Regions from separate parts of the Homo sapiens genome. Here region 2 is linked to region 1. Evidence: fine-mapped expression QTL. Tissue or cell type: blood mononuclear cells. Region 1 holds a variant in brackets; the other region holds the start of a gene. All regions are shown on one strand. Distances are from middle to middle.

Evidence for each region. PIP is the estimated chance that this variant, and not a neighbour inherited with it, causes the effect.
Region 2: it holds the start of ZFP2, and the variant in region 1 is fine-mapped to the expression of ZFP2 in blood mononuclear cells (TOPMed, PIP 0.95).

What each region holds. Positions count from the first base shown.
Region 1 is chr5:178,956,170-178,960,332 of GRCh38, reverse strand. The region is part of intron 4 of ZNF454 (zinc finger protein 454); the gene reads right to left. Among named protein-coding and RNA genes, the nearest start is that of ZNF454, 17 kb to the right of the region's middle. The variant T/C (reference allele first, on the strand shown) is at 2,230.
Region 2 is chr5:178,894,109-178,898,271 of GRCh38, reverse strand. It overlaps ZFP2 (ZFP2 zinc finger protein), which reads right to left and starts at 2,359. Exons shown (of 5, transcript NM_030613.4): 1 at 2,298-2,359. RefSeq lists silencers at 2,117-2,166, 2,237-2,346 and an enhancer at 2,457-2,646.

The DNA of each region.
Region 1 (4,163 bases):
TGAGCCAAGATCTTTCCATTGCACTCCAGCCTGGGCAACAAGAGCGAAACTACGTTTCAAAAAAAAAAAAAGAAAAGGAATGGGCTGGACACAGTGGCTCATGCTTGTAATCCCAGTGCTTTGGGAGGCCAAGGCAGGAGGACCGCTTGAGTCTAGGAGTCCAAGACCTGACTGGGCAATATGGTGAAACCTCGTCTCTACAAAAAATTTTAAAAATCAGCCAGGCATGGTGATGTGTTCCTGTAGTCCCAGCTACTCAGGAGGCTGAGGTGGGAGGATCGCCATAAGCCCAGGAGTTCAAGGTTGCCATGAACAATGATCACACCACTGCACTCCAGCCTGGGCAACAGAGCAAGAACTTGTCTCAAAAAACAAAAAAAAGAAAAGAAAAGAAAAGAAAGAAAAAAAGAAAAGAAAAGAAAAAAAGGGGCCGGGCACGGTGGCTCATGCCTGTAATCCCAGCACTTTGGGAGGCCGAGGCGGGTGGATCACGAGGTCAGGAGATCGAGACCATCCTGGCTAACACGGTGAAACCCCGTCTCTACTAAAAATACAAAAAATTAGCCAGGCGTGGTGGTGGGCGCCTGTAGTCCCAGCTACTCAGGAGGATGAGGCAGCAGAATGGCGTGAACCCAGGAGGTGGAGCTTGCAGTGAGCTGAGATTGTGCCACTGCACTCCAGCCTGGGCAACAGAGCGAGACTCCGTCTCAAAAAAAAAAGGAAATGATCTCAACAACCCAATAAACACATTTGACCTCAAATTCTCAATTGTCCCCCATTAGTCTACACTTTCAGCCCAATTCTTATCAAAATTCCAGCAGGAATTTTGTGAAAATTGAATAGCCAATTCTAAAATTCTAAAAGAAGAGGACAAAACTGGAGAATTTACGTCAGCAAGTGTAAGGCTTATTATAATGCTCGAGTAATCTAAAGCAATGTTGTGTTGGCACAAGATTAGACAGAAAGAATGAAAGAGAATAGAGTCCAGAAACAAATCTGTATGCAAACAGACCAATGGAACAGATTATGGAACCCGGAATGAGACCCACGTACATGCAGTCACCTCATATATGACAAAGGTGACAGTGCAGTACAATGGGGGAAAAGGCAGTCTTTCTAGCAAGTGATCCTGGGTCAACTGGATACCCCTATAGAAAATAATGAGCAATCAATCTTCCATATGGACTGTAGACTCAAGTATTTAAGACAAAATACTACAGCTACTATAGGAAAACACAGATCTTCATGTGCTTAAGATGTCCTAAATAGAACACAACAAGCGTTAACCATAGGCAGAAAAAGAAAAAAAAAAGACCTCTGATGAATTCAGGTATCTCAAAATTCAGAATTTCTATTTATCAGATGACATCATTATCCAGAGTGGGAAACAATATTTGCATATATATGACAAGATTCTGCATTTCAAATATACAGCCCTATAAGCCAATAACAAAAGATCAGACAACAAAATAAAAGTGGGGCAAAGATGTATAGATACTTTAAAAAAGAGGGTATTGAAATTCTAAAAGTAAGAAGATCAACTTCAGTTATAACCATACATCCTCTAGAATGGTAGAAAACCTTTTGTAACGATAATACTACGTGTATAAGAGTTGATATGGAAACCTTGCATTTCGCCGGTAGGAGTATAAATTAGTATAACCACTTCGGAAAACTATTTGGCTCTGTCTGTTAGAGTTTGCATATGCATAATCATAGCACTCCTAGCTATTTAATCAAGGAAAATGTGTACCTATGTTTTCTAAAAGTTGCAGAAGAAATGTTCATAATGGTACTATTCGTAATAGCTCTAAGCTAGAAATAAACCAAATGTCTAGCAACAGTAAAATGTACAAATAATGACAGGTTTATATGGCGAAACATTATATAGCAATGAGAATGAACCAACTATTGTTCCAAGTGACAACAAGGATGAATCTCAGACATACTGTTGAAAGCAAGAAGCCAGACACAAAAGAGTACATACTGTATGATTTAAAGTTTAAAAACAGGCAAAACAAATCTATTGCCAGAGTAGTTGTTACCTTTACGACAAAAGAAACTGCGAGGGGACTGGGTGGTTACAAGGGGTGCTGGTAACGTTCTATTTCTTGATGTGAGTGCTGACTACACAGATATATTTAAACAGTAAAAATTCACTGAGTTGGACATTTATGATCTATGTACTTTTAGTATAAAGATGTATATAGAAAACAGTTTCTGTATAAA[T/C]TTCAAAAAAGTTTGCTTTAAAAAATCTAGGGGACGGCTTTCAAAAATAATAAAAACACCAATTTCTAGCTTTCTTTTCTATCAGCTATTGGATACTGACATCTATTAAAACCTTTTATTGATTGTGATTAAAAACACATCATCTATGTATAAGAGAATACATGACTTGAAATATTTTTTGAGGGTAATTATTTGACTTTTTAAATATTTTATATTACATGATAACACTCATCTTCAAATAGAGTTTACCAAGAGGGGAGTCAAATGCATCCCGGTTTGACCACACTGAAAATTAATTGAGGTGTGAATTAATCCAGTTCAGTAAGACTGGTCTTACTGGCACTGATTTAGCCTGCAGTACAAAAGAGCACTCTGGTGTGAGCAACTCAGGCACACTCACTGGGTCCCAGGTCACTTCAGGGTAGGCTAAATTAAGGAGACCTACCCCTACCTACATTGGAGGTCAGGAGATCGAGACCATCCTGGCTAACACGGTGAAACCCCGTCTCTACTAAAAATACAAAAAATTAGCTGGACGTGGTGGCAGGCGACTGTAGTCCCAGCTACTCGGGAGGCTGAGGCAGGAGAATGGCCTAAACCCAGGAGGTGGAGCTTGCAGTGAGCCGAGATCGTGCCACTGCACTCCAGCCTGGGCGACTGAGTAAGACTTCGTCCCCAAAAAAAATAAAATAAAATAAAAAATAAAAATAAAAAAGATGGTTTTAAAATCCTTAATGTAGGCTTTGAAGTGGCATGCAAGTAGTATGTTCCAAGCCTCCTATATAATGTTGTCAAGAGGTCACACCCAGGGAGGGACCAAACGCTAGACCAATTCACTCCTCAATCACCTAAAGTTTCAAGAATTGGTCCCATCAATTTTATCTCGAAGTGGAAGTTAGGACGAATAAAATAAGAAAGACTGGGCCGGGCGCGGTGGCTCACGCCTGTAATCCCAGCACTTTGGGAGGCCGAGGTGGGCGGATCACGAGGTCAAGAGATCGAGACCACCCTGGCCAACATGGTGAAACCCTGTCTCTACTAAAAACACAAAAATTATCCGGGCGTGGTGGCAGGCGCCTGTAGTCCCAGCTACTCGGGAGACTGAGGCAGGAGAATCGCTTGAACTCGGGAGGCGGAGCTTGCAGTGAGCCGAGATTGTACCACTGCACTCCAGCTTGGTAACAGAGTGAGACTCCATCTAAAAAAACAAACAAACAAAAAATACAAAAAATTAGCCGGGCATGGTGGCGGGCGCCTGTATTCCCAGCTACTCGGGAGGCTGAGGCAGGAGAATGGTATGAACCCGGGAGGCAGAGCTTGCAGTGAGCCGAGATCGTGCCACTGCACTCCAGCCTGAGTGACAGAGAGAGACTCCGTCTCAAAATAAATAAATAAATAAATAAATAAATAAATAAATAAATAAATAAATTAAATAAAATAAAATAAAGACTGGTTTAAGGTCAGTTTACCCTGACCTTAGGTGCCCAGATCCTCTTCCCATCCTTTTCCCAACTCAAGGGAACTGGGGGATTTGCCCTTTCTCAATGTGGCAAAAGACTTGAGGCTTTTTTTTTTTTTTTTTTTCTTTTCAGGAGAGCAAAACAAAGTTGCTCTGGACGGAAGATGCCTGGGGCGGGAGAACTGTGTTGGGGCCGGAGAACTGTGTTGAAGACTGAAGCCCCACTTACCCAGAACGTCCAAAAAGGACGTTAGTCTTCCCACTGCCTGGATAGGCAATGAGGGATTACTAGCTGTAACTGAGGAAAGCTTCTCACAAGAAAGAAATACCAAAATCATCAAACAGAAAACTAGAGAAAACGGACCCAATGATGGGAGAAGAAAATGTCTTTGAAAATCATTATCTTTAAATGTAAGATATTTTAACTGTAAAACAGGAATAAGAGCTTATTTTTGAAAAAGGCAATATTCAGAGA
Region 2 (4,163 bases), 62 kb after region 1:
GCTCACGCCTGTAATCCCAGCACTTTGGGAGGCCAAGGTGGGTGGACCACTTGAGGCCAGGAGTTCGAGACCAGCCTGGCCAAAATGGCAAAATCCTGTCTCTACCAAAAATACAAAAATTAGAGAGTGGTGGTGGGCGCCTGTAATCCCAGCCACTCAGGAGTCTGAGGCAGGAGAATCACTTGAACCGGGGAGGTAGAGGTTGCAGTGTCGAGATCACACCACTGCACTCTAGCCTCGGTGACAGAGCAAGACTCCGTCTCAATAAAAAAAAAGAAGTTCACTAATTATGGAAAAAATATTTAAGTTGTGTGTTACAACAACTAAGACTTTTTTAAAAAAGAATACTGATGAGAGACAACTTGCCCACCAGTATTCATAAAGCTACAAGAATTGGAACACAATATTACTGACTTATTTACCAGATACATTGTTGACCACCTACTGTATACTAGGCACCATTGCATGGGGTAGGGGTGGATACAGCTGTAAATAAAACAGATAAACTCTCCGCAATCATGGATGTTATAGCCGAACAGGGAAAAGCATCAATGGAACAAATTAAAATTCTACCAACCTAAATGGTTCAAATACACATGTATTTATGTATGTGTGTGTATATATATATTTCATTCAAGATATGAAATAAGTGACATTTCATATCAACGAAGAAAAAATTACTAAGTAACTTGTAACAAAGGCTTACCATTTGGAAAAAAATAAAAATGTACACAAAAAATGAAAGTACTAAGAGAAACTACAAACATTTTTGTAATCTCGTGGGACAGACAGCTTCTCTGCCAGTGATGTCAAACACCCAAACGTGAAGAAAAGGTTTTCATGTGTGACCATAAGAACCTGTGACGTTTCTGCACAGTCAGGAAACATGCTTATGTATCAGATACAAAATTAAAATACAAAATGCAAACTGCGTGAAAATATTCATTAGTGTTCAAAATGCAAATGTAAACAATCCTATCTTTTGCACCTCTCAGAAGTTCAAGAGAATACTAACATTCACAGTTGGTGTGGGTAAATCTGGCACTCTTACACTGCAAGTGTTTATATAAACTGCAACTTTTCTGGAGGGAATAAGACAGGAGGTATCAAAATCCTTACTGTACCCTGGACCTAGAAATTTCACTTTAAGAGATTTATAGAATAAGACAAAATGCAAAGATGTATGTAGCCAGATGGCCTATACTGTTTATAATACTGAAAAAAAAAAAGAAAAAAGAAAACCCTAACACAAAAACCTAAGGAGAGGATTCAATACGACACATCCATACTTTCCCTCACACTCATTAAAATGACGTAGCTCTATTTAAAATCTGGTATAAGTAGATGGTGTCAACATATTCCAATGTTTTTTTCAGATGTATTCTCTATCTTCATTGGGTGTTTAGGCCAGTAAAAAATTACAAGGCTTAAGATTTGTGCACTTCAAACCCCTTACCAAATGCATCTCATGACTCAGTTTTAAAAGATAGATGGAGAAAAAGCTGCTAATATTCATATTTCTGTTTAAAAACAAAGTACAAAGTGTTTCTATGCTTATACACATATCCACGCTGCCATGCAGATGGAGATAGATTTTGAATGATTGTTTTAATCTCAATTTTCCAGTTGTGCTACAGTGAAATCGCTTAAGGAAAAAAAGAAAAGATTCCCCGAGGTCGAAACCTGCACCAGGTTGGCCTCCCCATTCTTATTGTGAGATGGGAGGGGAGCCCACGCCAGCGCTCTCGGAATGAGATCCAGAGGGCGGGTCCGGAGACCCGGTTTACACAAAGGGCAGATGCTGCACAGGGAGACCCAGCCTCTGGCCCAGAATCCCCGGGATGTCCGCGGGTTAGGTTCGCTCCACGGTCGCAGCGTGTCCCGGGACAAAGCTGCGCGCGGCTGGGGAAAGCCAGGGAGGAACCCGGGTCCGAGCGACTCTTGGAACCTTGGGCCCCTCCCTGACCCGTGGTGGCCGGCGTGGCCCTTGTTCGAGCCCCCATCCCCGCTGCTCCGGGGCTGTGATTCCACCTCGGCGCCTGCCCAGGACAGCGCCGAAGGACACTCAGCTGCCAGCGTGCTCCCGCCGCCAGCTCCTGGGGAAGAGGGAGCGCACCTGGAGCCGGAGGCCCGGCGCTCCACAGGCGCAGTGAGGCCGCACCCCCGGCCCATCTGCTGCGGGCCCGCCCCTCAACCCTCAGGAAGCTGGGGCCTCGCCCCGCAATCCGGAGCTCCTCCTGCGGGGGCCTACAAGACTCACGGATGGCGCGCGCCCCCGCCACCGGCCCCGCACTCACCCTCTCCCAGCAGGAGCGGGAGCAGCGGCGACCGACACAGCCGCGACCGGCGCTTACAGCCCGGAGCGCCAGACTACATTTCCCACAAGGCTGCGGGGCTGCAGTGCGGCCAGGCCGTCGGCGTGTGCGAGAACGGGGCCCCAGAGGGCAAGGCTGTGCCAGTGGCCAGCTGAGGTGGCCCACGGTGTGGCCTCTGCAGGTCATCGGTGTGTCCAGGCGGGACGCGGGGTTCCCAGGCGGCCCCTTACCCCGGCTAAAGTCGTCTCTCTGGCCAGGCCTGCAATCTCAGCACTTTGGGAGGCGGGTGGGTGAATCACCTGAGGTCAGGAATTCAAGACCAGCCTGGCTAACATGGTGAAACCCTGTCTCTACTAAAAATACAAAAAAAATTAGCCAGGCGTGGTGGCGGGCACCTGTAGTCCCAGCTACTCGGGAGGCTGAGACAAGAAAATCACTTGAACCTGAGAGGCAGAGGTTGCAGTGAGCCGATATTGCGCCACCTCACTCCAGCCTGGGTGACAAGAGCAAGAGAGTGTCTTAAAAAAAAAAAAAAGGCATTAATTTACCAGCAAATAAAATATTTTAAACTTTTATGTATTTAATAACATAAGATACAAAATACATAAAGCAAACATGGGCAGAACCCATTTTTAATTTTGTTTTCTTTCTTTTTTGTACAGATGGGATCTTACTCTGTTGCCCAAGCTGGTCTCAAACTTCTGGGCTCAAGCAACGCTCCTGCCTTGGCCTCCCAAAATGCTGGGATTATAGGCGTCAGCCACCACCCTGGCCTCAGAGTTTTTAACCTACCTTCTCAGTAACTAATAGAAAAGCTGACAAAAAGGTCACTATAGATATGAAATATTTGAAAAGCAAAATTAGTTTTATGTTAATGAATAGACATGTAGACTACTCCACCCCAAAACTGAAGAAAACACATGGAAAAGCATATATTTACTTAAGAAATGATCTCATACTAGTCTGTAAAGTAGCCTCAACACATTTCAAGCAATTGGTATCACACAAGACCATATTCTTTGACAATGTAATTAAGCTAAACATTTTTTAAAAGACTAGAAACTTTTTAGAAAAGATTTAGGTAAAGGGAATATTTAGAGGAAATTTTGCAGCCTTCAAAGCATACAGTAAAGAAGAAAAGAAGGCAGATTGGGTACAACACATCTAATTTTGTTCCCTCCTAACACGTACTGATATAGTTCAGGACACACACACTCACTGCCAAAATATGGCACCTCATCATTTGAGAAAACAGCAGAAACAGGAAGGACTTTTCCACACATCTCCCACGAAGCAGGTTGTAAAACCTAGGAAGAATTTCCTAACGTCCCCTGAAGCAGGTCGTAAGATTCTCATGTGAGATTTGCACTCCCTATACCTGGAGGAAAGTAACATCTTTATTGCTGAAGACACACAGTCACAGAGAAAACTCTTGAACAAACAGGCCTTGCTAAGTTGCCCCCAGTGTATTACTATTAGATCATATCCTCTTTGTCCATTTATATTTCTCTGTGACTTCATCAAATTTAGCATAAAAATACACAACTTTAACTGTTTCTTTGGGACTTCATTTCCTTATGTAGGCTGCTGTGTCATGTAAAACTTGTATTAAAGAAACTTGTATGTTTTGCTCTTGTTAATTTGTCTTTTGTCTTAGGGGTCTCAGCCACCAACATAGGACGCGCAAGAAAAATGTATTTTGCCTCCTCTGTACCACTAAAAGCAAATGTAACAGATTGTTTGAAAACTTGTTAATTCACAAGGTCAGGAAAAACAAGTAAGGACACACCAGCAACATTTTAAATCTTGGAAACGGATGTTATTTTCTTGGCAAACCTGAAATAATGC